Homo sapiens: one gene and its partner. The protein of the gene in region 1 purifies or fractionates together with the protein of each later gene. This does not show direct contact. Each region holds a gene or a part of one and is shown in the gene's direction. Other genes may lie near its edges.

Region 1 (16,812 bases):
TATTCAATAGGAATATATGATTCTTGATAATGAACTGTCAGTGCAGAAAGAACCTTCTTTTCATTAAAGAATAACTTTTTGTTGACTTCTCATTCTAATTTTTTTTTCATTGTGTATATGATTAGGGCCTGGCACCTTGATTGTAAAGCTGCTTATGGAAAGTATCACTCTCCCTGGAATTCCCAGATCTTAAAACATAACACAACAAAATCTTTATGTATCCTAGAAATGTGGTGTTTATAACTGACTATAATTCTTCTCATCAATAAGACTGATGTGTTAATGCAGGAACTAAATTACAGTAGGACTGAGGAAGGAACAATTGTTTGGTATCTTTGTGGGTATTCAGTTGCTCATATAAGGGTGAGACTATCTCTAGACTATTCTGTTCCATTGATGTGTTTGTCTTTTCTTATGCCAATAATGTCTTGATTATTGAAACTGTAAAGAGAGCCTTGAAACTGTATATCCGAAAAACATTTATTTAACCTTGTAAACACCGTTCTCAGCATTGGCCTATGAAATGCATACCTGGCTTGGTCTGTGTTTGAAGAAAGAAGCTTCGTGGTGTAGTGCTAGTTGTAGAAGTGTTTGTTGTTAACATCACTCTTGCTTTCCACCTGGAAAGGATTATTTCTCCATACTGAGTCCTGTTAGGATTCTTCCTCCATGTTCTGAATTGCCAAGGCCTAGGTTAGGTTATTCAGGATCACTTGTTTAGGCTTCTCTGGTTTGGGGAAGATTTTCCGGTCTTCACAAGAAGTCAAATATGGGACCTGAGGGTCTGTCTAACCAGTTAACTTGATAAGAAACTGCCAACCCTTTGTCCAAAGTGGTTGTGCCAGTTACACTCTCACCAAGAGTGAGTATATGTGTAGTCCACATCCTCGCCATTATTTGGTGGCGTCAGTCATTTTCATTTTAGCCATTCTTTTTTTTTTTCTGAAACAGAGTCTCACTCTGTCACCCAGGCTGAAGTGCAGTAGCGTAATCTCGGCCCACTGCAACCTCCACCTCCTGGGTTCAAGCAGTTCTGCCTCGGCCACCTGAGTAGCTGGAATTACAGGCTACAAGCATGCATCACCATGCTCGGGTAATTTTTGTATTGTTAGTAGAGACAGGTTTCACCATGTTGGCCAGGCTGGTCTCGAACTCCTGACCTCAAGTGTTCCACCCACCTTGGCCTCCCAAAGTGCCAAGATTACAGGCATAAGCCACTGAACCCAGCCCATTTTAGCCATCCTGATGGGTATCTATGGTATCTTGTTGCAGCTTTAATTTGCCTCCCTGATGATTAATGATTTTGAGCACTTTTTCATGTGCTTATTGGCCATTCCTTATATCCTTCTCTGCGAAGTGCCTGTTCTAGTCTTATGCTCGTTTTTAAATTTTTTTTTTATTACAGAGTTGTAGTAGTTATGTATATATTATGGATACAAGTTCCTTATTAGATATGTTTTGAGAATATTGTGACTTATCTATGTATTTTTTTACTGGTAACTTTAATGAGCAGAAGTTTTTACTGTTGATGGTGTCCAGTTTATCCATTTTTTTCCTTTATAATTATTCTTTTTTGTCTTGTCTAAGAAATCTCTGCCAGGCCAGGCACAGTGGCCCATGCCTGTAATCCCAGCATTTTGGGAGGCTGAGACGAGAGGATCACCTGAGGTCAGGAGTTTGAGACCAGCCTGGTCAACATAGTGAAACCCGTCTCTACTAAAAACACAAAAATTAGCCAGACGTGGTGGCACACGCCTGTAATCCCAGCTACTTGGGAGGCTGAGGCAGGAGAATCGCTAGAACCTGGGAGGCAGAGGTTGCAGTGAGCCGAGATTGTGCCACTGCCCTCCAGCCTAGGTGACATAGTGAGCTCCGTCTCAAAAAAAAAAAAAAGAAATCTCTGCCTTCTTCAAGGTCACAAAGATATCTTCGATATTTTTTCTTACAGTTCTGTAGTCTTTGCTTTTACATTGAGGCCAGTGGTTCATCTCTAATTGTTTTTTGTGTACAGTATGAGATAGGGGTCAAGGTTTGTCGTTCCCCCATAAGACTATCCAGTTTCAGTACCATTTGTTAAAAGATTTATCTTTTTTTATTATTTGGTATATTTGTGACTATTCAATTACTCATAGAAGGGTGGGACTATCTCTAGACTCTATTCTGTTCCATTGATCTATTTGTCTGTTCTTATGCCATAGTGTCTTAATTATTGAAACTGTATAGAGAGCTTGAAATCAGGCAACCTAAACCTTCCCAACACTGTTCTTTTTCAACATTGTGTTTCTTCTGGAAGACCCTAATCTCTGTCTCTGGTTTCCCATGCAGCCACCCAGGCAGAGGTCAGGGTCTCCACATTTTGGCAGAAATCTTTAGTGTAGAGCCAGGTGCAGTGGTACACACCTATAGTCCCAGCTTGAGCCCTGGAATTCAAGGCTATAATGTGCTGTGATTGCACCTGCGAATAGCCACTGCACTCCAGCCTGGGCAACATAGCAAGACCCCATCTCCAATTTTTAAAAAATCGTTAGTGTAAAGGCCAGCTTTGATACTCATTCACTTCATAAATATCCTTCTTCCACTCTCTTGATTTCTGCAGATTCTTTATGTATATATATTACTCAACATTTGTTTAAAGATACCCTAAAAGTATTTTATCCAGCTTTTCACTTAAGATAGTAGTTCAGGGTATCTAGTATGTCATGCTGCCGTTAACAGAAGTCAGTTGTAGTGATTTTTTTTCTCATTTACATTTATCTGTATCTTTAAAAATTGCTACAATAATATATGTTAATTGAGTAATTCAAAAGAACCAGTAATGATAATTACAAAATTTAGTAACCGTTTTATTGGTTTTGAATCCTTCAGACCCCTGGAATGCCCTACCAATCCTGTGGCTAATTCAAAATATGGCCCAGAATTGTCATTCCCTCCAAAATATCATCTGCCAGCGAGAATATGGGCCCCAAACATTTTGACCTTCACAGCGTTGGTATTTAATGAATGTTGCTGAAGGCAAGTACTTCATATGGTGTTGCAACTTGTTCCCTTGCAGGAATGGTCTGCCGAAAACCGACCGACCCGGTTGATTGGCCACCACTTGTCCTGGGACTGCTCACTCTGCTGAAGCAGTTCCATTCCCGGTACACCGAGCAGTTCCTGGCGCTGATTGGCCAGTTTATCTGCTCCACGGTGGAGCAGTGTACAAGGTACAGAAGACCAACCAGGACTACGTGGGACTTCTTGTCACAAAACCTAACTTAAACCTCACATTACCAAATTCCTCTTATCGCCCTAATAGAGATGGGAAATGGTTGCTCACCCTTCTCTGTAAAGCAAGTCAGGGCATACCTCCTTGTTTAGAGCAATTACAGGTGTGTCCATCCTTAGTCACCCTGCCAGGGGAACTCCATCCGGTCTACTCACATTGATTTTCCAGGAGTGACTCAGGACCATGAATAGTAACTACCATGGGGAAGAAAGTGCAGCCCTGTTCCTCTGCACTCTTGGATGCAGCTCTTCAATCTCAGCGAGCCCCTGCACTCCTGCTGGGCCACTGCCAAGAGATGATTCCACTCACTTCAGTGGGAGTCAGAGAACATATCAGTGTGTCAAAGCCTGGGCAGTGTCTGCATGTAGAGAAGCAAATTTCACAAGAGTTGCTATTTGATACAATGCTTATAAAACTTTAATTCCTGCCAGTTCTTTTCCCCTGCCCCTAAATGTGGCTTTTCTGGGATAAAGAAAAAAAAGTTATTTCCATGAGATGCTGGGTCCTGTGCCTCCTTCTCTGCTATCCTAAAGGGTCAGCCTGGCTACATAACCTTTGCTGTCATGTTTGCTTGGTCATTTTTGCCACTATAATGTAAAAAACGAATCAAAGCGGCTGGGCACAGTGGCTCAAGCCTGTAATCCCAACACTTTGGGTAGATTACTTGAGGTCAGGAGTTCAGGACCAGCCTGGCCAACATGGTGAAACCCCATCTCTACTAAAAAAACACAAAAATTAACCACATGTAGTGGTGGCCACCTGTAATCCCAGCTACTCAGGAGGCTGAGGCAGGAGGATTGCTTGAACCCAGGAGGCCTCAGAGGTGCAGTGAGCTGAGATCATGCCACTGCACTCCAGCCTGGGTGACAGAGCGAGACTCCATCTCAAAAAAAATAAAACGAACCAAAGTGATCTTCTAAGTCCACACAAAATACTACTAAGTCCTAAAACTGGAAATGATTTTCGAGGTCATTTAATTGACCTCCCACTAAGTGCATGAATGAGCTCTAGGACATCCTTGACAGGTAGTCATGCAGCCACTGCTGGAACACTCTCACCGAGGGGGCTTGTGCTACCTCTCCAGGCAGCACAGTCCACTGGCTAAGTCTTGTTCTCATTAGAAAGTTCCTGATTGTGATTATTAGAACCTGTGTCTCTGGATGTTTCACTCGCTGAGCTTTTTCCTACCTTTTGAAATCATACAGAATAATGCAGTCTCCCTCCTTTGCAACATCACTTCCGATTTTGTATGCCATCTGTTGTCTTAGGTCTTCTCAATGTTTAGATAAGCCCCTTCCACCTGTTCCCGATGTCTTGCAGTTTAGAGGCTGCTCACCATAGTGAGTGACTTTTTCTGGGTGTTCCAGTCTGTTTTTGACCATCTTAAAATGTGGCTTCCCAAACTTGTATTGAGATTCCAAGCACAGCCCTCCCCTTGGCACAGAGGAGTATTACACGTCTTCATTCTGGGCCCTCTGTGGACAGTACAGCAGCTACAATTGCAGTGATGAGTCCTTTTTTTTTTTTTTTTTTTTTTTTTTATGAGAAAGAGTCGCTCTGTCGCCCAGGTTGGAGTGCAGTGGCGTGATCTCGGCTTTGCAGTGATGGGTTTCTTGACATCCAGTGCATACCAGTGGCTCCTACTGATTTTGCATTCTTTCTAAACCCCAATGTCGTTATTTCCCGTGAGCTGCAGTCAGGCCAGCTCCTCCTCCTCTTAGTTAATGAATCGAACAACAAACACTGGTGTTTTCCTGGGATAGATGTTAAGACTTGCTTCAGAAACAAGATTTTTTAACAATTGAAAAATAGAGGAGAACTCAAAGTCTCAAAAATGAAATTGTAACAATCACGAAGTGAGGTCAGTTGGCAAGGAAAGCAGTAGGCTCATAAAAACCCAGCGCCTCTGGCCCAGGCTCCCAGAGAGGAGGGGAAGGACTCCAGTTCAGGTGGTGCGGAGGTGATTAGCAAGTAACCTCCACACAACTGGCTGTCCCAATTGTAGCTCCCTAGCTGTCAACTTGGACAGGTTCTTCTTCCTCTCTTTCTTTTTCACTAATGGCAGTAAAGGCTTAAGTGTGGCTCTAGTCCAGCATGTTATTGGCAACCCTGAGGGTGGTGATCAGGCTACAGGAGACCAGCTGTAAGTCAGGCTTTCTGATTCAGCAGAGCAAAGGAATCTAAGGAACCTGTGACGCATGGGAATTCCTTCCTTTCTCTTGCTCCAAGCAGAGCAAATATAGCCCTGGTCACAGATTGAAAGATTGAGAGCAGGGAGAATTTTTCCAGGTACAGTCATTCTTAACCCATTCAAAAAGCAAAGTTCATCAGCGAAATTAACCAGTAATGTATTAATAGTACTAAAAGTTATTTGTTAATCAGAAAATGCCAATTGGTACAGGAATTGGAAATCGTTTTAACACCTAAAAACTCCTTTTGATGTAAACAAGAAGGAACGTTAGCTCTATAAGGAGCCTGGCATGTACTTTGCTGTATTCCCAGCTCTGGAACAGTGCTTGGCACTGTAGTTGCTGAATGAATGAATACATGAGTAAAATCCCATATGAAAAATTGCTAGATGCTGTATTTATTTGATACCGTCAAATATGCAGTACATGCCAAGCACATTTCCAGATGCTGGAGAAACAAAGATGAACATATGACCTAGGCCCTCGAGGAGTTTATACTCCTGATGGGAACCCAGCACACCATTGAAAAATTAAGAGGCTTGGAGAATGCTGCTAACTATTATGACAGCCCAGGAGAATCAGGGAGGATTCCACAGGAGAAGTACCCAAGCTGAGACTCGAACAATGTCTAGAAGTTTACTTTCAAATCAGTGTGCAGGCCAGGTGCGGTGGCTCACGCCTGTAATCCCAACACTTTGGGAGGCCAGGGCGGGTGGATCACCTGAGGTCAGGAGTTCAAGACCAGCCTGGCCAACATGGTGAAACCCCGTCTCTACTAAAAATACAAAAAATTAGCCAGGCATGCTGGCGTGCATCTGTAATCCCAGCCAGTCGGGAGGCTGAGGCTGGAGAATCACTTGAACCCGGGAGGCGGAGGTTGCAGTGAGCCGAGATCATACCACTGCACTCCAGCCTGGCTACAAGAGTGAAAAGTCTGTCGCAAAAAAAAAAAAAAAAAAGTGTGCAGGGATGGGAAAGTATGGGACCTGCTAGGTATTGAATCATGTAAACAGAGGGAGATGAGTCTGGATAGATAGCAGGGATCGTGTTGTAAACGCCCATGGAAACCGTATAGAGAAGCTCACATTTACCCTATGGGGTGGGCTCCTGAAAATACATGAGCAAGGTAACAACTTGACAGGAATTAAGAGCATGCTCAATGTTTTTGTTCATCTTTGACTTCATTAGGTAATCTGTTGGTAATTTAGTCTTTCAGGATTCTGACCAAAAGGGCTTATGATGTGCAAAGCAGTTAATTGATCTAAACTGTTCTCTATCACAGCCAGAAGATACCTGAAATTCCTGCAGATGTTGTGGGTGCCCTTCTGTTCCTGGAGGATTATGTTCGGTACACAAAGCTACCCAGGAGGGTAAGTGATAGATAGTAAAGAACAATATTAATAGTTGTAAAAAGATGCTAATAATAGTGGCCCTGGATTCATCAGGAGTGAAGCCCAATAGGTCGTTCACAGTAGATGCCTCTGCGCCTCTCGCCACTGCTCTACCCCCAGCTCTGAAATGTCCTTGCCTTTTCCACCATGGGAATTGCCTTGCAGAGTTTAACACAATGCCCCTCCCGCCTCTTCTTCCTCTCCACCATGTACTCCTGTCAGCAACTCATCTGGTTCAGGAGTTAAGTGAAATAGGCAAGCCAGGAGGGATTCCTTAAGTGGCCAGAGGAAAGAAATAATCATGGTGGTTTGTTCTTTCTCTCTCCACTGACCTGGTTCCCACAGCAAGCACAGTTAAGTTCATGCCACAACTAAATGTATATATGAGCACTGTTTCCAAAAATGGCAGACTACTTTTTACCTGCCAAGACATTCTTTCCTATCCCTTTCTCATTAGTAATTCCACTTTGTTAAATTTTAGCTCAAAGTGGAGAGCTTGATACTGAAAAATACAACTTTCAGCAGATACTGAAAATCATTTGATTTTTAGAAATTAGTAGGTTAGGAATCAAAGATACTTTCTTACAACATGAGCCAAAGATGAACTTTTAAAATTAACTAGCAATGTCAGTACATAATAGTGAAATGTTAGTGGCATTCCCATTAAAGCCAGGACTGTCACAGTGTCATGACAACTATACAGACTCTTGCAACTACTTTTGTTATACAGGTGCAAGACAATAAGAAATGAAATGAAAATAAAATGCATATTGGAAAGAAGACAAACTCTGTATTATTTGAGATTAATTGTCTTCCTTTTTTATTCTATTTTTCCATAAGTTATTGGGATACAGGTGGTATTTGGTTACATGAGTAAGTTCTTTAGTGGTGATTTGTGAGATTTTGATGCACCCATCACCTGAGCAGTATACACTGCACCATATTTGTAGTATTTTATCCTCACTCCCCTCCCATTCTTCCCTCCAAGTCCCCAAAGTCCATTGTATAATTCTTATGCCTTTGCGTCCTCATAGCTTAGCTCCCACATATCAGTAGGAATATACGATGTTTGGTTTTCCATTCCTGAGTTACTTCACTTGTAAGAATAATCTCCAGTCTCATCCGGGTCACTGCAAATGCTGTTAATTCATTCTTTTTTATGGCTGCGTAGCATTCCATCGTATGTATATATCACAATTTCTTTATCCACTCATTGATTGATGGACACTTAGGTTGGTTCCACGATTTTGCAATTGTAAATTGTACTGCTGTAAACATGCATGTGCAGGTATCTTTTTTGAATAATGACTTCTTTTCCTCTGGGTAGTTACCCAGTAGTGGGATTGCTGCATAACTGTCTTCCTTGAATACCCAATAGAATCATGTGAAAAACTATCAAAATAATACAGAGATCAGAAAACAAGCTGGCTACAGAATAAATGTATGAAATACATCAATCGATTAAAAAATACAGTGTGAAAAAGGACCTATTCACAGAAATAACAAGGCAATGATATAGCTAAGAATAACCTCTATAAGAAATATGAAAGAACACTTTATTAAAAAACTATAAAAATTTTAAATATAAAATTTGAAAGTCCATGTTTCTGAATGAGGGTCCTCGAATATTACAGAGATAATAGTTCTATCTAGTTTATAGGTTTACTGCAGTTACAATCAAGATTTCAGGTACTTTTTTAACTTCAAAGAATATATTTTTTAAAATGTCATAGGACTTAGGCAAGTCCTTTTTTAAAAAAAAGATATTAAAATATTATATCAAGTATTAAAACACTGTAAAACTGTAGAAACCAAAATAGGGTGCTACTGGTATGCAACTAAATAGAAGGAACAATGAGCAAGAATATGTAGCCTAGAAACACACCCTGTGCATACAATGGTACATAAGGAAAAGTAGCATCTCAAATTAAGAGAGAAAGGGAATATTAGTCAATAGATGTAAGTTCACACAGTTAAAAAAATAGCAACTTAGTCCCCTTTACATCTCCTATGTTATCAAAATTAATTACAGATAAAGGGTTAGTGTGAAATATGAAACAAATAAATTAGCCGAAATTTTAGGCAAATATGTATCAGCTCTCAGAAATTCCTAAGTATAAAACCAAAAGAAGAAACTATAAAGAAAAAGATTTAGAGACTTGATTTTTTATAAATGCTGAATGTAATTAATTCTGTGTCAGTGTCTCAGTTAAAAAACAAAAGACAAAAGAGGAAATACCAACAAAGGACTAGTTTCTTGATTTATAGTGTGCTCTTCAAATCTTCAAGTTCAGTATGAAAAAGATGTCCAAGCCAATAGAAAAAAAGCAGGGGAAGGGCAAAGGAAATTAAGAGGCAGTTTTCAAGAAAATAGAAATGACAAACCTTCGGATTCAAGGGACAAAAATCCAAATACGAAAATTACTGTTTCCACTTATCAGGTTGGTGAAAGGTAAAATGTTGGGCCCCCATTATTCGGAAGCATTTGGAGAAATGGGACTTGTAAGTGCTATTAATTGGAATGTAAATTGACAGCCTTTGAGGAGGGCAATTTAGCTTTATCTATTTTAAAAAAACATTTGTAATATACTTACCCTGATCCCAGCAATTCCACTGCTAGGAATTTTACCTGCTGGATATATGTGCAAAGGTTTACCAAGATATGTGCCCAAGGATGTTCATAATATAAGATTTAGCAGAGGTAGAGAAGGACACAATATTATGTGATCCTAATTTTGATTGTGTGTGTGTGTGTGTGTGTGTGTCTGTCTGCATATGTAAGTAAACTGGAAAAATTCATTACAAAAGTTGCCAGTTTTTATTTTCTTTAAGGGATTAAGATTAAAAAAATATTTTTTTAAATTTTAAGCTCTGGGCTACACGTGCAGAATGTGCAGGTTTGTTACATAGGTATTATACATGTGCCATCTGTCGCCAGGCTGGAGTGCAGTAGTGAGATCTGGGCTCACTACAGCCTCCGCCTCCCTGGTTCAAGTGATTCTCCTGCCTCAGCCTCCTGAGTAGCTGTGATTACAGATGCGTACCACCACGCCCTGCTGATTTTTTTATTTTCAGTAGAGATGGGATTTCTCCATGTTAGTCAGGCTGGTCTTGAACTCCTGACCTCATGATCCACCCACCTCAGCCTCCCAAAGTGCCAGGATTACAGGCGTGAGCCACCACGCCCAGCCTAGGTTTTAAGCCTCACATGTATTAGGTATTTATACTAATGCTCTCCCTCCCCTTGCCCTCCACCCACTGTAAAAATAATTTTTATACTCTTCTGCATTTGCTAAATTTCCTCTCATTAGCAGGTTATACCTTTATGATCAGAAAAAAAATTAAACACTGCTTCTAAAAAATACTCATCTCCAGCACTTGGAGATCACCTACCTCTACATTCTACCCAACTGAGCCCAATTTAGTCTTCTCAGGGCTTTGCCCAAGAACAGTTCAGGAATGCATGCCTCTGAAGGCCTTCCTGCTCTTCCCCTTCTGGCCTTGGTATCTCATTCTCATTCCTGCCCTCCCCTACCTCTCCAACCCCATCACTTGCCAGCCATCCTGTTCTTCCTTGTTGGTCATCAGTTAATGAAGTGTATTAGGTGACCTGAGTACTTGTCAGTACTTCCCAGAGGCAAGAACATTCCTCGCAGATCAAGGTACCTTTAAGAGCCAAGAAGCTCAGATTTGGAGGCGGGAGAGCTGTACTGCATCCCCTCAAATGTTAGCAGTGCCAAGAAATGAGACGCTAGTCTAGGGGGCACCACAAGCAGAAAGGGGCTGTTTCAAGGAGTCGTCCGCCCATGGGAGTCTCCTCTTCTATTATTCACCTTGCTCCAAGGATATCTTTTCTTTTACGTATGAAAATTTTGTAATTGTTCAACTATAACACCATGAATAATTTAATTCTTTAATTTTTCAGGTTGCTGAAGCACATGTGCCTAATTTCATTTTTGATGAGTTCAGAACAGTGCTGTAACTGTTTTTCCTACTTCTTCAATGGAAGGATTGTCCTTAGATCTTCCCACCATCACAAATGAATTTGAAGATGAAAAGAAACTCAGTTGCTCATACAACTGCATTTTTTCTGTCTATTATGGGAAACATCAGACGTTCTGAGTAAGATATATCTCATGGCATTAGTTAATATAACTGATATTGTTTAAATCATGGTATTACATGCAATTTATATCAGATAAAAGCAGAACACATTTTTGTACTGCCTCTCTTAAATGCTGAATGTAACTGTTATGTATAAATCCATTTAGTTTTATGTTCTAAAGAACTATTTGTGCAACTCCAGATTTTCAGTAAAATAGTATTACTAGTACCCAAAGTCGTCTCGCTTATGATTCAAAAACTGTGTATTCACCCTGTAAAAAACCCTGTTTGGAATAAGAGATGACTCTGCTAGGTATAATAGCTCACCCCCAACAAGCTGGCAGGCACGTGGTGATAGCCAGACTAGTAGCAAATGTAGTGGCCACACAATCTGTGTCATGTGCCATTGAAGTTTCTTGGTGTCTCATCATCCTCTTCCAATCCCACATGCCCTAGGGGGTCCACAGCATTCCTTCTGTAGGACTCCTTAACAAAGCTGCTCCTTCCGGTATCTTCCTCAGCAACCTGAGTCCTGCCCCAAGTCCCCACAACCGTATCATTATCCAGAGTCCTTTTTGGTAATAGCCTTCCCATAAGCTTAACTCCCTCGAAATCCTAAATCATTTCTGCATGAAAATTACCCTGAAAAGGAAGCTGCCACTATTAGTCTGTTCTCACACTGCTATGAAGAAATATGGGTGGGGACACAGAGCCACACCATATCACTGCCATCCTACTGTGGCAACTTGGGTATCAACAACTTGGATGAGAGCAAGAAAGATGTTTCCACCCTAAATCTCTATGGTTATGTCCTTCTCTGGAGAGGAAGGAACAAACCAAACCAAACCCAGAAGCCAAAATCTGTTTGACAGTCATTTTGCTAGTGGTGGGGGAAGATGTACTGATTTGCAATCAGGAGGGTAAGTTTGAGTCCTGGTTCTGCCACAAGCTACACCTTGTCCCAAGCCAGCCTACTGGCATCATCTGTAAAATTAGGACTAAAGGATTTCTCAGGTTCCTTCGGTTTTCTCATTTTATTTCTTTTGTCAGAAGGCCTCAAATTCTGATATTGAAGGGAAGAAAAGACTTTACAGGCTTTGATTATTTCACTATCATAGTAGAAAGGACTTTAAAGGAGTCTCAGTGGCGAACAAGGGTAACCTCGAATCCTGGCCATGAGGGCACCGAGGCCAGGGCAGAATTTTAAGAGAACTGTTGCTTGGTACGTAGGGAGCTTGGAAGTCTCACCCCCTGCAAAGACGGTGTGTGGGAACATCTATATCTCAACGATAGCGTGTTATTTTTCATTTGTAATCTTGTTAACAATAACCACATGAAGTGAGATCTTTGTTCTCGAAAAAGAAAGCTAACTAACTGCTAAGAAGGCCAGATCTGGGAAAGTGAGTTTTTAACCAGAAAATAGAAGTTTAGGGTCAGTTAGATGGGAATCTTACGAAACCAAGCAAATGGGTCCACCATATGCTCTACTAAAACAAGGCAGTGATGTTTGAAACTGATTTTGCTAGTGATTTGGCCAGTGAAGAATTTTTTTCAACTGAAAAAACTTAAAAATTGAAATTTTTATTGTAAAAGCTTTGTAAGTTATATTTTAGCCCTGTTAGAATCTCAAGTAGTAACTTCATTTGCCAGGTTATATTTTACTGCTCTTTCAGAAGTAACAATTTACTTTCATGGTATTTGGAGATTTACTGAACTTTTATGATGATACCCTTTGAACATCCATAGTCTCTTCAAATTTACTATAGATAAACTCAGTAAATCCTAACGGATTTTAAGGTATTATGCCGGGTATTACAAGTGCTTACTTGTTCACTCACTGTTTCTTGATGTCATCCTGGGCTGCCTTATAAATGTTGCTATACAGTGGAACTTATAAAGCCCTTGATTGCCTTTCCTGTCAGAATCTGATATTTTCAGAGAACTCAGCAAAGAACCTTTCGGTTCAAATCTGAGTCACAGCCCCAAAATAAAATAAATAAATAAATAAGTAATTTTTTTTAAAGAAAATAACCTTATCAAATTGCTTCACTGGATAGATGAGGAAATCAAGGTCAAGACATTAAGGCAACTTCCCCAGTTATTTAATAGAACAGGTTTCCCTCTGCACTTTTCATCCCACTTTGGTTTTCTTTTTCATTATCATGAAGCTATGTAAACGAGCCCACAACAAGAAACAAAAAGACACGAAAGTTCATTCTTCATTTTATTTGCATGTCCCAACAACTCATCTCAAATACTAAATTCAAAAGAAAAACTGTAGTTCTCCTCAGCATTAGCACTAATTTATGGTAACAATCATTTCTTTTAAATGTCTAACTTATTTAACCCCTTCATTTTAAATTGCAAATTAAAGCATGTATTTACATATTTATATACAAAAAACTTCAAAAACAAATTAATCCAAATCTTGGTCCAAGAGTTTCCACTTTATAAGTGGTATGGTACTATGCTATATATATCCTCTTCCAAAAGTCTCTTAGGACTTGGTAAGTTCCAAATATTCATTCACAAATGGTTCCCCTTTAAGCTTAATGAACCATATACTTCATTTCTGAGTAAATTAGAGGAAATATTACAGAACACGCTTTGTACAATACAGCACCACTACTGAGAAGGGCTCGAGGTTTTGTAATCCAAGGTTCTGACTTAAAGCAAAAATACACGGCATAGATTGCAACAGCAAAGAAGTGTCCAATTAAAACTAGAGGGTTAGGAGACAATCTGTAATAGAAAAAAATACATATTGGTAAGACTCAGAAACTAAAATTTACTCCAAAGGTTCCAATTACATATAATCTACGAAGCTCAACAAACATCCTACTTTTTTTTACCCAAGCATCATAATTCTGTATGAAACATTCTACATTTTAGAGGACGTCACAAATATGTCTGCATGTTAAGTTTGATGGCAGGAGCAAACCCCCCACCCCCCTTTTTTTTTTTTTAAGAAAAAATACTTAGAATATATCCCTTTCAGAAAAGCTAGTAACTCCTGTAACTCTAGTTTACATAAGTCATATATTTTTAGCTGTTTGTTTACTCATCCTGAGACACCACGCTGAAATATCTAGATGGCCTGGTCTGTTGGGATGTAGGGCTTTTAAAAATATCAGTATTAACATTCAGATTATAGATTATGAGAAATGACTCAAAGGATCACTTTGCAAATGAGAAATAACTCGATAGATTTCACTTTGTAGACTTTCCAAGAATAGTTCCACATATGTCTGTACGCTCAAAACTAATACTGGGTTGTATAAGTCCCCGTACTTCAATGAAACTAATTCTTAAATTAAAATTTCTCAATTATTCCTGGCTCCCACAGACCAGAACATATGGATAAATCCATAGGCAAAAAACAAGCTTCTATTTTAATCAAGGGTTATAGCTTCCTCTACCACCACCTTTAACTGCTGTTCCCTAGAAAGAAAACAGTACTAAATATTGCGTTTCTTCATTTCTTTGGGCCACCTTCTCATTGGGATACTAACAGATAATAAAATATCAAAATGTGTAAGGAAGAAAGATTTGCAGTAATTCATCAACTGAACAGTCCTAAGAAAATCTGGCAGGTTTGTATCCTCTGTGCCATCACAACTTACACAGAAAGCAGCCCAACAGGACCCGCAACACATTCGCCACCAAGTTTGAAATAAAGAAAACAGGCTTTTCTTAGTTGATGCAGGGAATCTAAAATAAAATTGTAAAATAATCAAATATGTGTACACACTTATGTAGGATGCTAATGATATATCAGAAAAAATGAGAAATAACAAACGCTACATCTTGCAGATAATTTTTAAATATCTAGTCCTAGAATTTCAACAACCAGGATTTCTTCTGAATTCCATAATCAGCATTATGGAGAGTAATATAAATATGAATAAACTTTTTTCTGTTAGTAAATAACTACTAATATTTAGGTCTTGGAAGAGTTGTTTAAAAGGTACTTCCTTGATTTTGCTGTTAATTCATTAAGTGATGCAAAATACTTTGGAAGCTCTTTTTAACACAATTCTAGAAACCAAATTCCCAGTCTCTAAGATGTCCAACCAGTATCTCTAACTAAGCAGTAAATTATCAAGTGAAGAGAGCTGTGAGTAGCGATAAATAATAATTCCTTATATCTATAAAGTTTTTAATACCTTTCAAAGTAACTCATAAAACCCTCACAATGTAGTGTAATCAATTGATAACCTTTTTAACCATTTAGAATCAATGTTCTGTTCAGGTATGCCCAGATTTTTCTTTACAACAGATTTTAAAAAGTAAAGGATGCAACAGGTAAACTTTTGCTCCAATAAAGGTCTTTCCTCCTCCAATCTTGTAACTTTTAAAAAATGTTGTTTTGTTGGTAGATTTAAATTCATAATGTTAAGAACTCAAGAAGTTAGAAAAGCTTAGAAAGAAGAGCTCAGAAAAACTCTTAAATTTAGTTCTTTTTATTTGCCCAAAACTCTAAACTTAGTTCTTTTTATTTGCCCAAAACTCTAAACTTAGTTACTTTCATTTGCCCAACCAGCCATTTTAACTTCTATGCCAATTTAGCAAGAGAAATTTGTTTGGAAAAATCATAACCAGTGAGATTGGTGGGGTTTTTGTTTTGTTTTTTTTCCTTAGGAAGAGTTAATGGTTATAGAGGCTACAGAAAGCATTTTTATTGTATCATCTTTTGTAATTATAACCACAGCACTTATCACTAGGGCCTCAGCCAGATCATACAAATAGCTATGTTGCAAATATACTAGAGTAGTGGCATATGAGTCAGTATTTATTCTTGAAAACTGAAAAGCCTAGTTTCATTAACCTACTATTAAACTGATGTGTACACTGCTGTGGTGAGGAGGTGGCACAGTTGCCTTTTCTCCTCCATTTCTTTTAATTTTTTGTTTGTTTGTTTTAGAAGATGAAGTCTCACTCTGTTGCCCAGGCTGAGTGCAGTGGCACTTCATATAGCTCACTATATATAGCTCACTGTAGTGAGCTATATAGTCCCAAATAGCTGGGACTACAGGCACACGCCACCATGCCTTGCTGATCTTTTAATTTTTTGTAGAGATGGGGTCTTGCTTTATTGTCCAGGTTGGTGTGAAACTCCTGGCTTTAAGCGATCCTCCTGCCTTGGCCTCCTGAAGTGCTGGGATTACAGGCATGAATCATTTCGCCTGGCCTCTTTTCCTCCATTTCTAACACTGCTTCTGCTAAGTTGTGTTTTCTCTAATATATACATTGACCGTGACCTCTGTATAATATGGAAACAGTAACAAAAGCACCAAAATAATCCAAATAAGTAAAGGGTGAATGCATTGTTACTTGTGCTTTTCAACAGGGACAAGATTAACAGCTTGTATTCATTTTATAAAATACTACTTTAAAAAGAAATTGAAACTAGTGTTAGGAAGAAAAAGACTACATTGCCTTTTAATACATGGCCAAAAACACCTTCCATCACAGTCTTGTGTGTGTGAGGACAAGCATGATCTAGTCTGCACCAGAGGAATTCAAAATAATGAATATGTTACTGAGGCATTGCTATTAATGTTGTCTAAGGAAATTCCACTACCTTCCAAACTAAAACTAAAACTACAACTATTGCTCAAAATGGAATTTTAAAAAACTACCAACTTGGGAGTTAGCAAACTCAGGTAACATTTTTATTTCTGGACAAATCACTAACTTGTTTATTCCTTTCCTACGCTAAAAATCTGCAATTGAGTAATATTCACTAAAAAGTGTCTACACTTACCATCTGTGGCAGAAAATAATTCATAAAGAGCCTGAGCAAGGATATTCACGACAAAGGAATGAGATGTTTTTCTTGCCCAGTAAAATGATTTTT
Region 2 (16,812 bases), on another chromosome or scaffold:
CTATCCCCAGTTAGGAATGTGACTTTGGACAGATTATCTTCCATCCTTGTCCCTCCATACCCCAACCTATTCAATAATGAGGTTTGACCTAGATAAACTTTGAGACCTTTGCCAGTTCTGTAGTTTTAATGTTAATGCTAATACCAGTTTATGGTTGCAGGTCAACTTCCGTGTCAATCAAGCATGCTTTCACCCTTGCAGGGGTATCTGAGTTGAACCACATTTTGAGATAATAGGATGTGTTCACAAGTATATAAATACGTACTCTGTGCTTACTTAATGCCATACACTGTTCTAAGAAATACATAGACATTATTGTATTTATTCCTCCCTTCTACTCTATGAAATAATTTTACCTACTATGCCCATTTTACAAATGAGAAATGTATATATATATATATATATATATATATATATATATAATTGTATTTACTCCTCTCTATGAGGTACTATTAATTATTATATCCGTTTTACAAATGGGAAAGGCTCAGAGAGGTAAATTGCCCAAGATCATGCAGCTAGAAAGTAATAGAGCCTGGATCTGAAATCAGGTAGGCAGATTCTACCAGACCTGCCTATGTGCTATTGTTGTTATTATTGAAATGGATGTTTGATGTCAGTTTGTTTAAAAAAGTATTAATACTTTACCAACAAAAAGAATCTCTGTTTATTAAAATACATTGATACAGTATAAATGCATGTGTTTTTGTTTTTGATGAGAAAGAAAATATAAAACTGAGGTGAGGTGAGGTCCTTGGCGACTAAATGCATTGTCTAACATTTTTTTTTAATGTAGTTAATTCTGTCATGACTTTTCCTATGAATTATAAATATAGATTCAAGTCCAGAGTTAGCAAGCTCATTCTTGCCAACATAGGGAGATTGTGTACATTTGAGAGTTCCTTAGTAGTGGAAAAATCTAAAAATTTATTTATTTTTGTTTATTTATTTATTTTTTTGAGACAGGGTTTTTCTCTGTTGCCCAGGCTGGAGTGCACTGGTGCAGTCATGGCTCACTGCAGCTTCGAACTCCTGGGCTCAAGCAATCCACTTGCCTCAGTCTCCCAAGTAGCTGGGATTACAGGCGCATGCCACCACGCCTGGCTAATTTTTAATTTTTTGTAAAGATGGGTTCTTGCTATATTGCTCAGGCTAGTCTTGAACTCCTGGCCTCAAGCAGTCCTCCTGTCTCAGCCTCTGAGAGTGAGCCACCATGCCCTGCTAAAAATTTACAAGTAACTTATCTCCCAAGTTGATGCAGAGTCCATTAAAGATATTAATAGAAAATGGGACTGTGCGTGGTGGTTCACGCTTGTAATCCCAGCACTTTGGGAGGCCAACGCAGGTGGATCATGAGGTCAGGAGTTCGAGACCAGCCTGGCCAACACAATGAAACCCCGTCTCTACAAACATACAAAAATTAACTGGGTGTGGTGGCAGGTGCCTATAATCCCAGCTACGTGGGAGGCTGAGGTAGGAGAATCGCTTGAATCTGGGAGGCAGAGGTTGCAGTGAGCCAAGGTCGTGCCACTGCACTCCAGCCTGGGTGACAAAGCAAGACTCCGTCTCATTAAAAAAAAAAAAAAAAAAAAAAAAAACTGGGCGTGGTGGCTCACACCTGTAATCCCAGCACTTTGGGAGGCTGAGGCAGGTGGATCACCTGAGGTCAGGAGTGCAAGACCAGCCTGGCCAATGTGGTGAAACCCCATCTCTACTAAAAATACAAAAATTAGCCAGGCCTGGTGGCGGGCACCTGTAATCTCGGGTGCTCAGGAGGCTGAGGCAGGAGAATCGCTTGAAGCCTGGAGGTGGAGGTTGCACAGCCGAGATCCTGCCATTGCACTCCAGCCTGGACGCCAAGAGCAAAATTCCGTCTCAAAAAAAAAAAAAAAAAAGAAAATGGAATTAATCTGAAAACTAATTAGGTTGACCTGGCTTTTGGATCGACTTTGTAGTCTTCAGTTGGCTGGTCTTTAGAACATCTATGGAAACACAGTTCACTTATGACACTCTTGTCTTTCCTTTTAAAAAGGCTATACCTGCAAAATTAAAACAGCAAGCCCAATACTCATGGTTTACTGAAGCTAACAAGGACATTCATTTCTTATCAGTAATCTGTGCATAAGCTATGTTATCTTAACTAGGTGCTAAGCTTTGTACATTTTTCACTGTGTTAAAGATAGTGAAACCCAACTCTTCCAGAATCTTATTCTTTAGGCAATTTGCCCGAATTTTCCTGCCTGAAAGGACAAATCTTGCTGTCTTCTAAATTCCATAAGCATTTGGTGATGTCTTTTTAGGCCAGCGCTGCTCTCACTCAAGCATTGCGTTTACAATCTCATTTAAACCTCTTAGTCCTTTACAGTAGGCATTTCTGGCCTATTTACAGGAAACTTAAACTTACATTAGACTACTTTGAGAAAAGAAGGTAATAGTTTCAAGTCATATAAAATTTATTTTGTAAAATGCTAGTGCATATTTCTCTATACATAAAACTTGTTTTAAAAAAACCTGAAAAGCCAAAATAACTTGTTGGGAAGTTTCAATGTTTACTTCACCTAAACTAAGGATGCCTTTGGAGAAGAAGTGCTCAGAGCCAGACTAGACTTTGAATTCATTTACTGAGCCTGTTACATACCAGACACTGGGCATACCCCCTTTTTTTTTTTTTCGGTTTGCTTTATTGTGCCTTGCAGATTTTTTTTTTTTTTTTTTTCACAAAATAAAGGTTGTGTCCAACCCCGTGTTGAGTGAGTCTATTGGCATCATTTTGCCAACAGCAAAATTCCTCCCTTCGTGTCTCCGTGTCACATTTTGGTAATTCTCTTAATATTCAAAAATATTCTCTTGGTCAGTTGCAATGGCTCACACCTATAATCCCAGCATTTTGGGAGGCTGAGGCGGGTGGATCACTTGAGGCCAGGAGTTTGCAACCAGCCTGGCCAACATAGCAAAACCCTGTTTCTACTAAAAAATACAGAAATTAGCAGGGCATGGTGATGCACGCCTGTAATCCTAGCAATTTGGGAGGCTGAGGCATGTGAATCGCTTGAACCCAGGAGGCGGAGGTTGTAGTGAGCCGAGATTGGGCCACTGCACTCCTGCCTGGGCGACAGAGTGAGACTGCATCTCAAAAAAAAAAAAAAAAAAAAAAATATATATATATATATATATACACACACACACACACACACGCACACATATATATTCACACATATGTATATATGTTTATATATACACACACATATATCCTCTGAATATTTCAAACTTTTTCAATGGTATTATATCTGTTATGGTGTGATCTTTGGTGTTACTGTAATTGTTGTTGCCACAAACCACGCTCACATAAAATAGTGAACTTAATTGATAAATGTTGTGTATGTTCTGACTGCTCCACTGACTGGCAGTTCTCTATTTTTTTTTTTTTTATCTCTTCTTGAGCCTACCTATACTCCATGACTCAGCAATATTGGCATTAGGCCAATTAATAACCCTACAACGACCTCAAGTGTTTAAGTGAAAGGAAGAGTTGCACATCTCTTGCTTTAAAAAAAGTAGAAATGATTAAGCTTTGTGAGGAAGGCGTGTAAACAAAGATAGGCCAAAAGCTAGGCCTCTTGTGCCAGTTAGCCATATTGTGAATGCAAAGGAAACATTCTTAAAGGAAATTAAAAGTGCTACTCCAGTGAACACACAAATGATGAGAAAGCAAAACAGCCTTATTGCTGACATGGAGAAAGTTTAAGGGAATCTGATAGAACATCAAACCAGTCACAAATTTCCTTAAACCAAAGCCTAATTCAGAGCAAGGCCCTAACTCTTTTCAATTCTGTGAAGGCTGAGCGAGGTGAGGATGCTGCAGAAGAAAAGCTGGAAGTGAGCAGAGGTTGGTTCATGAGGTTGAAGGAAAGAAGCCGTCTTCATAGCATGAAAGTGCTAGATGAAGGAGCAAGTGATTGCAAGCTGCAGCAAGTTACTAGAAGTTCTAGCAAAGAGAACTGGTGATGGTGGCTACACCAAACAACGGATTTTCAGTGTAGACAAAACAGCTTTCTATTGGAAGAAGATCTAGGACTTTCATGGCTAGAGAGGAGAAGTCAATGCTTGGCTTCAAAACTTCAAAGGACAGGCTTAACTCTTATTAGGGGATAATGCAGCTGGTGACTTAAAGTTGAAGCCGTTGCTCATGTACCATTCCAAAAATCCTAGGGCCCTTAGGCATTATGCTAAATTTACTCTGCCTGTGCTCTGCAAATGGAACAAAGCCTGGATGACAGCACATCTGTTTATAGCATAGTTTACTGAATATTTTAAATGCACTGTTGAGACCCACTGTTCAGAAAAAAAAAGCCTTCTTTCAAATTATTACTGCCCATTGACAGTGTACTTGGTCACTCACAAACTCTGATGGAGATGTATAAGATTAATGTTGTTTTCATGCCTGCTAACACAACATCCATTCTGCACCTCAGATCAGGTCTTACCATTTAAGAAATACATTTCATGGCTAAGCACAGTGGCTCACACCTGTAATCCCAGAACTTTGGGAGGCCAAGGTGGGTGGATCACTTGAGCCCAGGAGTTCAAGAGCAGCCTGGGCAACATGGTGAAACCCTGTCTCTACAAAAAATATAGAAATTAGCCAGGTTTCTTGGTGCATGCCTGTAGTCCCAGCTTCTTGAGAGGCTGAGGTGGGAGAATCCCTAGAGTGTGGTGGTGCATGCCTGTAGTCTCAGCTATTTGGGAGGCTGAGGTGGGAGGATTGGTTGAGCCCTGGAGGCAAAAGCTGCAGTGAGCCATGAACGCCCCACTGCACTCTAGCCTGGTGACAGATTGAGACCCTGTCTCTAAAAAAAAATTGTTTTAAAGAGTTAACACAGCAAGCCTGAGACTATTATTCCTAAAAAGCCCTGCTTACAAGGTTGGCTCTTGGCTGATATCTTAGTCTGTTTTCTGTTGCTTATAACAGAATACCTAAAGTGTGATAAAGAAAAGGAATTTATTTTTTACAGTTATGGAGGCTGAGAAGTTCAAGGTCAGAAGGGCTGCATGTGGTGAAGGTCTTCTTCTTGGTAGGAACTCTCTGCAGGGTCCTGAGATGGCATGGGGCATCACATGGCAAGCATACTAGCTCAGATCTTTCTTCCTCTTCTTATAACGCCACCAGTCTCATTCCCATGACATTTATGATAATCTAGTAATCCTTTTTTTTTTTTTGGTTCGGGGGAGACAGGGTCTTGCTCTGTCACCTAGGCTGTAATGCAGTGACATGATCATAGCTCACTGTAGTCTCAAACTCCTGGGCTCAGTTGAGCCTCCTGCCTCAGCCTCTCAAGCCGCTAGGACTCCAGGCGTTTACCACCAAGACTGGATAATTTTTTTTTTTTTTGGAGACGGAGTTTCGCTCTCGTTGCCTAGGCTGGAGTGCAGTGGCGTGATCTCAGCTCACTGCAACATCTGCCTCCTTGGTTCAGGCGATTCTCCTGCCTCAGCCTCCCGAGTAGCTGGGATTACAGGTGCGTGCCACCACGCCCGGCTAATTTTTGTACTTTTAGTAGAGATAGGGTTTCACCATGTTGGTCAGGCTGGTCTCGAACGCCTGACCTCAAGTGATCCTCCCATCTCAGCCTCCCAAAATGCTGGGATTACGGGTATGAGCCACTGTGCCCAGCCGACCTGTGCACTTTTTATTTTTGCTGATTTTTCTGTATATTTTTTTGTAATAGATCTTAGCCATGAGTACCACTATATGCTGAGACCATTGAGTCCTTCTCTAGAATCCTTGAACCTGGCAGTGGTCTTGGAGCACAAAAGGAAGAACAGGTTTTGCTGGGGCAGTGGGCATTGGAGGATATGAGTTCTGGTTTGGACATGTTACATTTGTATTGCCTGTGGGATATCTATGTTTTCTGGCACTCAAGAGCAAGTTCTGGGCTGGGAATGCAGATTTGAGCATCACCAGCATTTGGATAGCATTTGATACCAAGGTAAATGAGTACAGAGAGACAGTATGAAACCCTACCAAGGGAGAGAAAGTATGAAGCCCTGGAGACATGGACATTTAAAGATTGGGCAAATGAAGAAGAAGAGCCCAAGGGGTTAAAGAGAAGCCAGAGAAATGGGGCAAAACAAGCCAGGGATTGCATTAGTATTTATTGATATCTTATTTGGACCTGTTCCTTCCACAACCCCTGCAGAAGTCAAGAGAAGAATTTGAAGAAGAACAAGTTAATTGACAGTATAAAAAGGTGGTATGAGGTGAAATAAGGACTGGTAAACTGGGGTTAGTAGCAAAGAAGTTGTTGGTGATCGGATGGGCCTGGTGGCTCACACCTGTAATCCCAGCACTTTGGGAGGCCGAGGTGGGTGGATCACTTGAGGTCAGGAGTTCGAGACCAGCCTGGCCAGCATGGTGAAACCCCGTCTCTACTAAAAATACAAAAATTAGCCGGGTGTGGTGACACGCGCCTGTAGTCCCAGCTACTTGGGAGGCTGAGGCAGGAGAATCACTTGAACCTGGGAAGCGGAGGTTGCAGTGAGCCGGGATCACACCACTGCACTCCAGCCTGGGCAACAGAGTGAAACTCCATCTAAAAAAAAACAAAAACAAACAAAAAAATTTTTAGTGATTTTAGCAAGATCAGTTTCAGTGGAATGGTGGGGGATAAGATTTCTTGCAAGGGATGATGAAAGAATGGTTCTGTTAGATGAAAGGATGGCAGGGACCATGTTTGATGGGTAAGTTTGTATCATAGCTTCATTTCAATTGAATAAACTAGTAAAAAGCAGGAGGGGGAGTAGTCAGTAAGGGTGACTAGAAACTGTGATTTGCTAAAAGCAAGAATTTACAGTTTGAAGATACCATAGAGAGCACCTGAACTAGTCACTTCAGTTTATAGGTGGAAAAACTGAGGTCCAGAAAAAAGAAATGCCTTGACCAAGGTCCTGGGGATAAACAGGGTCAACTGATGATGTTCAAATCACATACACAATCTTGATTTCAAAGACACTTTGCTGTGTCCAATATTTTTATTTATTTTTTTTTTTAATTTTTAAATCAGCTTTCCTAGCTTGAAGTGTTTCTAGTATTGAATGGTGGGATGTAGTCAAGGAGGTATTTGTTCAAGGTTGGAGATGAGCAGCTTTTATAATAATTCCAGGTTTGGGATATATCAGTGAAATTTCATTTTTCATTTTCTACTAACAGTGCCAGATTGGCCTCACTTTTTGGACTGGATCAGGCAGCTGCTGGCCATGGAAATGAATTTTTCCAGTACACAGCCCCAAAACAGCCTAAGAAAGGCCAGGGAACGGCAGCAACAGGTAAGTTAAGAGTGTATTAGCCGAGCGAGGTGGCTAATGCCTGTAATCCCAGCACTTTGGGAGGCCGAGGCCGGTGGATCACCTGAGGTCAGGAGTTTGAGACCAGCCTGGCCAAGATGGCAAAACCCCATCTCTAAAAAAAATACAAAAATTAGCCAGGTGTGGTGGCGTGTGCCTGTAATCCCAGCTACTAGGGGGGCTGAGGCCGGAGGATCTCTTGAACCCAGGAGGCAGAGGTTGCAGTGAGCCACTGTACTCCAGCCTGGGCAACAGAGCGAGACTCTGTCTCAAAAAACAAAACAAAACTGAAACAAAATAAAAACAAGAGTGTATTAGGGTTCTCTAGAGGGACAGAGCTAATAGAATATACGTATGTGTGAAAGTGAGTTTATTGAGGAGAACTGACTCACACGATCACAAGGTAAAGCCCCATGATAGGCTGTCTGCAAGTTGAAGAACAAGGAAGCCAGTAGTGGATCAGTCCGAGTCTCAAAACCTCAAAAGTAGGGAAGCCGACAGTGCAGCCTTCAGTCTGTGGCTGCAGGCCTGAGAGCCTCTGGCCAACCGCTAGTGTAAGTCCAAGAGTCCAAAAGCCAAAGAACTTGGAGTCTGATGTTCGACGGCAGAAAGCATCCAGCGCAGGAGAAAGATGAAAGTCGGAAGACTCAGCAAGTCAGCCCCTTCCACCTTCTTCTGCCTGCCTTATACTAGCCACGCTGGCAGTTGATTAGATAGTGCCCAACAAGATTGAGGGTGGGTTTGCCTTTCCCAGTCCACTGACTCAGATGTTAATCTCCTTTGGCAACACCCTCACAGACACACCCAGGAACAATACTTTGTGTACTTCAATCCAATCAAGTTGACACTAAATATTAGCCATCACTTCGGGAGGCCGAGGTGAGCAGATCACGAGGTCAAGAGATCGAGACGATTCTGGCCAACATGGTGAAACCCTGTCTCTACTAAAAGTACAAAAATTAGCTGGGCATGGTGGCGCTTGCCTGTAGTCCCAGCTACTTGGGAGGCTGAGGCAGGAGAATTGCTTGAAGCCGGGAGGCGGAGGTTGCAGTGAGCCAAGATCACGCCACTGCACTCCAGCCTGGCAACAGAGCAAGACTCCGTCTCAAAAAAAAAAAAAAAAAAAGCCATCACAACTGGCACTAGGATTGTGCCTTAACAGGTTAGATGGAAGGGTTAGCAGCCTTCCAAAAGTGACATGCCAGGTTGTGTATCCTTGACCAGTCTGGCTAAGCTCACCCCCAGTGGTGAGTGCTTCTCTAAGATCTGGGATCCTGATTTCTAGCAGCTAGATAGCGTGCGCTTTGTTGGGAACTGATGGAGAGGTTCGAAAGCAAGGCCTTCTGCCCCATATGGACACCGCTCTCCCAAACTCTGTCCAAGGCACTCTAAGTAGGCACTGTCCAGTGTTTTGGTGAGAAGGAAGACCTACTTTTCACTTCTTTTATCTGGACAGGTTAGCTGTAGGCTCCATCCTGAGCCTCCACCCCTCTAGGGCCCCACTCTAAGTCACCTCATTAGCATTGTCAAAAGATACAGTTATAACACATGGAGTTTTAAGATCTTAATTGGCTTTTATTTGAGATTCTAGAATTGGGCAACACTTCATTCTATAAAATGGAATGTTGTGATGAGCTGAGCAGAGGAGGTTGGCTTTATAGGCAGAAAAGTGCTGAAGAAAGCAGAAACAGAACAAAAAACAATTGGTCATTTCAAAGTTACTTTTGTTGTGTAGGTTAAAGCAGAGAAGACTTCCTTCCTTATCATGCTGGCTAAAATTGGATTATACAAAAGATGTTCCTACCACTCTTATCACTCAGGAAATTACAAGGGATTTGGGAGCAGTGTGTCAGGAACCAAGGACAAAGACCAAACATATTTCATATTATACCACAGCCTATAGGCCCTTTACAGAAAATGTTTGCCGATCCCTGCTTTAAATATTACCTATTACTTTAGGCAGTTTTGCTGTAGGTGCTTCTCTTATTCTCCAACTCATAACCTGGCCAGATTTCTAGTAGGCTATGCTTTTATATTTCCTGTGGCACATCTCTTCATCAGCAGTGTGCTTCAGAGTTAAAGTGGTTGAGTTAATGGGAGAAAAAGAAACAACCTTAGTTCCCACCCAATGAAAACACTTGGTTTTTTATTTTTATTTTTTATTGTACTTAATTTTAGAAACAGAGTCTTGCTTTGCTGCCCAGGCTGGAATGTAGTGGCTATTCACAGGTGCCATCACAGTGCACTACGGCCTTGAACTCCTGGCCACTGCACCTGGCTAACTTGATTATTTAAATCAGAAGACAGCAACTATGAGTTTATTACACTTTTAGCAGGGAGCTATAGAAGCAAGATTGCCTATACAGTTTTCTTTAGGCATTTACAAATAAATAAAGTAGCAATACAGAAGTCCCTCTCTGTTCAAGGGAATTTTTTTTTTTTTTTTTTTTTTGAGATGGAGTCTCGCTCTGTCACCCAGGCTGGAGTGCGGTGGCATGATCTCAGCTCATTGCAATCTCTGCCTCCTGTGTTTCAAGTGATTCTCATGCCTCAGCCTCCCAAGTACCTGGGACTCCAGGTGCACCCACCATACCTGGCTAATTTTTGTATTTTTAGTAGAGATGGGGTTTCACCATGTTGGCCAGACTGGTCTCAAACTCCTGACCACAAGTGATCTGCCCACCTCTGTTTCCCAAAGTGCTGGGATTACCTGTGTGAGCCATCTCGTCCAGCCTGAGGAACAGTTGGACAGGATGTAACCAAACCTTAAATTTTTTATACTCCTTTACCCCATAATTCCATTTTAAGGAATTTATTATAAGAAGATAACTGGAAGTACACACAAAAATGTTGCATTTTAATTTATGTGTTTCTGTATTTTCTAAGTTTCCTACAATGCACTTGTACTCTATAATCAGAAAAAAAAGTGTTAATACAGAAAAAATCAAACGAGTTCTTTCAAAATATAAGTTCTTGCATGTCATGTCCGCATCAGTATTATCTCACTACTCTTCCATCACATTCATATAGTGAGTATAAATGTGATTTACTCTTAACATGGTATTTGAAAATGTTAGTGTTACTCTGTAGTCCCTTTTTTTTGTTGTTTTTTTGTTTTTTTTGAGACGGAGTCTCATTCCATCACCCAGGCTGGGGTGCAGTGGTGCGATCTCAGCTCACTGCAACCTCTGCCTCCCAGGCTCAAGCGATTCTTCCTCTTCAGCCTCATGAGTAGCTGGGACTACAGGTGCGCGCCACCACCCCCAGCTAATTTTTGTATTTTTAGTAGAGATAAGGTTTCACCATATTGGCCAGGCTGGTCTCGAACTCCTCGTGATCCACCTGCCTCGGCCTGCCAAAGTGCTGGGATTACAGGCACGAGCCACTGCGCCCAGCCTACTCTGTAGTACTTTGTGAAGTTAATTAATGGGTGTGATTTAAATATCTTACTGAATTTCCCACCCTAGAAGACAGGGAAGGGGAAATAACTTTATTTTCATATATTATAGCTGTCAAAATACTGGAAGGAGAAAATAAAATAGATGGACTATCACTTTTTAGACAGTACTCCTTGTCTAGCCAAAGACTTATTTGGGGTGTGTGGGTTGGGAGTTGGAGTCATGGGTTTCAGACCTAGGCACTATCATGGTATAATTGTGTGAGGCACTTGGGTGATTAGAACCTCAGTTTCTTCACCCCCAGACTAGATCATAGGGCTGCTTTGTGGATCAAATAAGGATAATCATAAAAGCATTACAACACTGACTGTAAATTATAAAGATCAATTTTGAAGCTAGTTCAGTGGTTAAAAATTAGTTTAAGGCCAGGTACAGTAGCTCACGCCTGTAATTCCAGCACTTTGGGAGGCTGAGGCAGGTGGATCACGAGGTCAGGAGTTCAAGACCAGCCTGTCCAACATGGTGAAACCCCATCTCTACTAAAAATACAAAAATTAGCCGGATGTGGTGGCACGCAACTGGAATCCCAGCTACTCATGAGGCTGAGGCAGGAGAATGGCTTGAACCCGGGAGGTGGAGGTTGCAGTGAACCGAGATCACGCCACTGCACTCCAGCCTGGGTGACAAAGTGAAACTCCGTCTTTAAAAAAAATTAGTTTAAAGCAAGAAGTGAATGACAACTTTGTTTTCTTGTTCATCTTCAGGAAATCAGGCAACACCAAAAACAGCACCAGCCACCATGAGCACTCCCACAATACTGGTCGCAACAGCAGTCCATGCATATCGATAGTAAGTCGCTGAGAAGGAACACCCTCTGAAGTTTGGTGGAAGGGCGTGCAGTTAAGCTACTTTTTCTCGAAAAACCTCTGTTTGTTGCAAAACGGTTATTTAGCCCTTCCACGGACAAAATATCAGTAGAACTTTTAACATCTGAATTGGAGATTTCTGTGGTAAAACTTGAAAAGCCATTATCTTGTCTACTGTCTTTAGGGAGTGCTTGTACCCTCAACAGCTGTCAAATGCTCAAAGAAAGCCTCTCCACTGAGATAGCATGAATGATAGATATTTATATTTAAAGAGTAAGGGAATAGTATATGAGCTTTAAATTATAAACTGCTGGGCCGGGTGCGGTGGCGCACTCCTGTAATCCCAGCACTTTGGGAGGCCGAGGCAGAAGAATTGCTTGAACCTGGGAGGCAGAGGTTGCAGTGAGCCAAGATCATGTCACTGCACTCCAGCCTGGTGACAGAGCGAGACTCTGTCTCAAAAAAAAAAAAAAAAAAAAAAATTTTAAACCGCTCACCTGTGTCCCTGCCTAGAGGCTGAATGACTGTTGTTCCCACTTCTGTATGACAGAAAAGAAAGCTGGTTCTGCAGAATTTAGGGAAGTATTAATACTTGTTGTTTCTCTTCCTTTTATAGCACAAATGGTCAATATGTAAAGCAGGGCAAATTTGGTGCTGCAGTTCTGGGGAACCACACAGCCAGAGAGGTGAGAGTGCTCCCACATCTCATGTATATTCAGATGTCCCAAATAATACCAATGAGCTGGCTTTTATCTGGCTTGCCCGATGTCTTGTTTATCAGAAGATAAGGATGATTATTTGTATTGAATGTTAATTTATAACATCAAGCATATAGTAAATGATCACATTTTGCTTACTATTGTGCGTTAAAACAAATCCAACCATTCAAAATTGTTAAATTTGACCTTTGTGATATGATCCTAGCTTAAGAATTTGGGCATTTTTTTGTTTGTTTGTTGTTCAATTGTGGGGTGCGTGTGTACACACACATACACAAATACACACATATATATACACATACATATGTATATATAAGATAAAATTTGCCATTTAACCATTTTTAAGTGCATAATCCAGTGCCATTAATTGCATTCACAGTATTGATTGAGCAACCATCACTACTATCCATTTCCCAAACAGAAAGTGTAACCATTAAGCAATAACTCTACTTCTTCCTTTTTCCCAGCTGCCCATAAGGTCAAATCTCTTCTTGTTTTTATGAATTTGCCCTTTCTAGGTACCTAATATAGGTGGAATCATAACAGTATTTGTCTTTGGTGACTGATGTATTTCATTTCACATAATGTCCTGAAGGTTCACCCATGTTATAGCATGCATCAGTATTTCATTCCTTTTCATGGCTGAAAAATATTTCATTGTAGGTATATACCACATTTTGTTTATTCATTCATCAGTTGATGGACACTGGGTTGTTTATACCTTTTGTCTATTGGGAATAGACAAAAAAAGTATGTATCGTGAAGACTGACATAAAAGTATATGGTCAAGTTCCTATTTTGGCTGTATACTAAGAGTGGAAATTGCTGACTCGTATGGTAATTTTATGTACCACTTTTTGAGAAACTGCCAAACTGTTTTCCACAGCAGCCACACCATTTCACATTCCCACAAGCAATGTATGAGGGTTTCAGTTTCTTCACATCCTTGCCAGCATTTTGTTATTATTATTATTTTTAAATTCTTGCCATTCTAGTAGGTGTGGAATGGTACTTTATTGTGGTTTTAATGTGCATTTTACCCAATGTCTAATGTTGAGTATCTTTTCATTTGCTTATTGACCATTCATGTATTTTCTGTGGAGAGATGTCTACTCAAGCCCTTTGTCCATTTTAAAAATTGGATTGTTTGTCTTTTTGTTGTGGAGTTGTAGTAGTCTTTTAATATATTCTGAGTATTAAACCCTTATTTGCAGATATTTTATAGATTATCTTTTCACTTTCTTGATAATGTCCTTTGATGTACAAAAGTTTTTAATTTTGGTGAAGTCCATATTATCAAGTTTTTTCTTTTGTTACTTGTACTTTTGGTGTTTTATCTGAGAATCCATTACCAAAACCAAGGTCATGACGATTCACCTCTACGTTTTCTTCTAAGAGTTTTATGATTTTATCCCTCATGTTGTTTTATATACAAGTTGGGCCTACGGTAAAAAATTACTTGACATGTGAAGAGGTGGGAAAATGTAACTAATAATCAAGGGAACAAATAAACTAGGAGCAGACTCACAAATAACCTAGATATTGCAGTTAACATACAAGGCACTTAAAACAACTAGGAATAATATCTTAAAGAAAATAGAGGAAAAGTACAAAAGGGATGAAAAGATGGAGAATTTAAAAAGTTAGAATCTATAAGAATAATCACATGGCAGTCTAGATTTGAAAAATACAATTTCTGAAACTAAGAACATATTGGATGGGTTTAACAGAGTCAGAATACAGCAGGAGACAGAATTAGTGACTTCGAAGGCAGTAACATAGAAAATATTCAGACTGAAGCACAGAGAGAAGAAATAATAGAAAGAGACCAGGGCAAAGATTGATGTGGGACATGGTCTAACGTCCATGTAATTGGAATCCAAAGACAGTAGAATTATATCTTTAAAGTACTGAAAGGAAAACAAAACCCTGCCTATTACAGAATTCTATAGCAACAAAAATATCCTTCAAAAATGAAGGCAAAATAAATTTTCAGCCAAACAAAAGTGAGAGAATTCATTGTAGTAGATTTGCACTACAAGGAACATTAAAGGACATTCTTTAAGTTGAGGGAAACGAATGTCTGTGTCTTTCAAAAGACATGGAGAGGCTGGGCGCGGTGGCTTACGCCTGCAATCCCAGCACTTTGGAAAGCCAAGGCTGAGGTCGGGAGTTCAAGGCCAGCCTGACCAACATGGAGAAACCCCGTGTCTACTAAAAATACAAAAAAATTAGCCAGGTGTGATGGCACATGCCTGTAATCCCAGCTACTTGGGAGGCTGGGGCAGGAGAATTGCTTGAACCTGGGAGGTGGAGGTTGCGGTAAGCTGAGATCATGCCATTGCACTCCAGCCTGGGCAACAAGAGTGAAACGTCATCTCAAAAAAAAATGACGTGGAGAATGTTCATAGAAGTATCATTCATAATAGCCTCTAGCTGGAAACAACTCAAATGTTCATAAACAGGAGAATGAATGAAGAGTTTATGGTATATTCACATAATAGAATACTACATGACAATAAAAGAGAATAAAGTCCTGGAACATGAAGTATCAAGGCTTACTCTTATAGATACGGTGAGTGAAAGAAGCAAGACAAAAGAGTATACTCTGTATAATCCTATTTATACAAATTTAAGAATAGCAAAATTGTCTGGGTGCGGTGGCTCACACCTGTAATCTCAGCACTTTGGGAGGCCAAGGTGGGCGGATCACCTGAGGTCAGGAGTTCAAGACCAGCCTGGCCAACATGGTGAAACCTGGTCTCTACTAAAAATACAAAATTAGTAGGGTGTGGTGGCGTGCACCTGTAGTCTCAGCTGCTCGGGAGCCTGAGGCAGGAGAATTGCTTGAACCCGGGAGGCAGTGGTTGCAGTGAGCCGAGATTGCGCCACTGCACTCCAGCCTGGGCGACAGAGAGACTCTGTCTCAAAAAGAAAAAAAAAAAAAGCAAAATTAATCAGCGACAGAAGTCAGAATATTGGTTATCTCAGGGTGGGGATTATTGACTAGGAAGGGCATGAGGGAGCTTCCTGTGGTGTGGGAAATGCTCTGCTATTTTTTAAATCTGGTTGATGGTCACGTGGGCACATATATGTATAATGAACATGTATTTTATGTTTTTCATCAATTTAAAAACAATTTGTATTTTCTTTTACACAACCAGCCACTCTTAGTCACCCCTTGTATAAATGAAAACACCAACAAAATGAAGACATTGCCAATTACAGTTAAACAGTAAGACCAAAATGAGAAGAGATTAATGTGGATAGTGAGAAGATAAAATTTAAAGTTGAAGCCTTAAAGGATGAATAGATTTTGAGTTTAGTATGAAGCACAACCTTTGATACTTATTGCTGATTTTATATTGCTGATTTTATATTGCCTTTTAACTTCTGCTGTCTCTCTTTTTTTTTTTCTATCTGTCGTTGCTTGTCTACAGTATAGGATTCTTCTTTATATCAGTCAACAACAGCCAGTTACGGTTGCTAGGATTCATGTGAACTTTGAGCTAATGGTAAGACTTCATCATATTGGAATCATTAGCTCCTTCGGGATAGGTTTACAGGAGAGACTGGTCTGATTGTACCTAATAGAAATTAGATCCACTGGTTCAGCCCTGGGTGTCCTTGTGAGTATCTAACAGAACCTTTCAGAAAGGTCTCTTGGCTCCTTCTAGGAATGTGGACTGAAGGGTGAATCGTAGAGGGTGAGAGGGAAGAAGAAAGATCTCTGATAGTTCCCTTTGGGTCCACCTGAGTCAAGACCCTACTCTATGAGCTTAGGCCGTCATGTTTATCTGGTATAATACTGCTTGTGGATGAATTTAACATTTCTCCTTTCTCCAGGTTCGGCCCAATAACTATAGCACCTTTTATGATGACCAGAGACAGAACTGGTCCATCATGTTTGAGTCGGAAAAGGCTGCTGTGGAGTTCAATAAGCAGGTGATAACATCTTACTCTCCCTGTGAAAAGCCAAAATACTTGTTTGGATTTCCCTTAATTTTAGGGAAACATATAGAAAACCCATAATCTGCTGTGTTTTGTTAGTGACTAGCATAAAAAACCCACTAAATTTGCCACTTCGGCCTATTGTATGATTTCAGGAAAATAATAGGAATACTTACTGAAACTGCTTGACAATTTAGCCTTTTTCTTTTTTAACAGAGAAAGACTAAATGTAATCTTATTATATTAAAAAATTTTCTACTACATAAATTATCTTAAGGAATAAATAAAACTATCTTTAAAAAATAGTGTTTTCAAAGAATGTTTTAGGCTGGGTGTGGTGGTTCATGCCACGCTTGTAATCCCAGCATTTTGGGAGGCCGAGGCAGGTGGATCACTTGAGCCTAGGAGTTCAAGATCAGCCTGGGCAACATAGTGAAACCCCATCTGTACAAGAAAAGAAAGAAAGAGAGAGAAAGAGATAGAGAGAGCAAGAAAGAGAGTTAAGTTACTACATACTCATTGTAGAAAATTTAGAAA

The links.
Region 2: the proteins of WASHC5 (region 1) and FKBP15 purify together in Homo sapiens (affinity purification with western blotting; 2 studies listed by BioGRID, with this or other methods). This does not show direct contact.

The regions. Positions count from the first base shown.
Region 1 is NC_000008.11:125,018,635-125,035,446, reverse strand, and holds the end of WASHC5 (WASH complex subunit 5), read left to right. Parts: exon of another isoform or gene 1-85; intron 86-3,052; coding exon 3,053-3,206; intron 3,207-6,739; coding exon 6,740-6,827; intron 6,828-10,773; coding exon 10,774-10,830; 3' UTR 10,831-11,187; downstream 11,188-16,812. Other genes in the region: SQLE (squalene monooxygenase), read right to left, coding at 13,502-13,694, 14,576-14,663, 16,720-16,812. UniProt on the Homo sapiens protein: Acts as a component of the WASH core complex that functions as a nucleation-promoting factor (NPF) at the surface of endosomes, where it recruits and activates the Arp2/3 complex to induce actin polymerization, playing a key role in the fission of tubules that serve as transport intermediates during endosome sorting.
Region 2 is NC_000009.12:113,201,988-113,218,799, reverse strand, and holds part of FKBP15 (FK506-binding protein 15), read left to right. Parts: intron 1-7,207; coding exon 7,208-7,323; intron 7,324-11,503; coding exon 11,504-11,588; intron 11,589-12,221; coding exon 12,222-12,291; intron 12,292-15,764; coding exon 15,765-15,839; intron 15,840-16,170; coding exon 16,171-16,269; intron 16,270-16,812. UniProt on the Homo sapiens protein: May be involved in the cytoskeletal organization of neuronal growth cones. Seems to be inactive as a PPIase. Involved in the transport of early endosomes at the level of transition between microfilament-based and microtubule-based movement.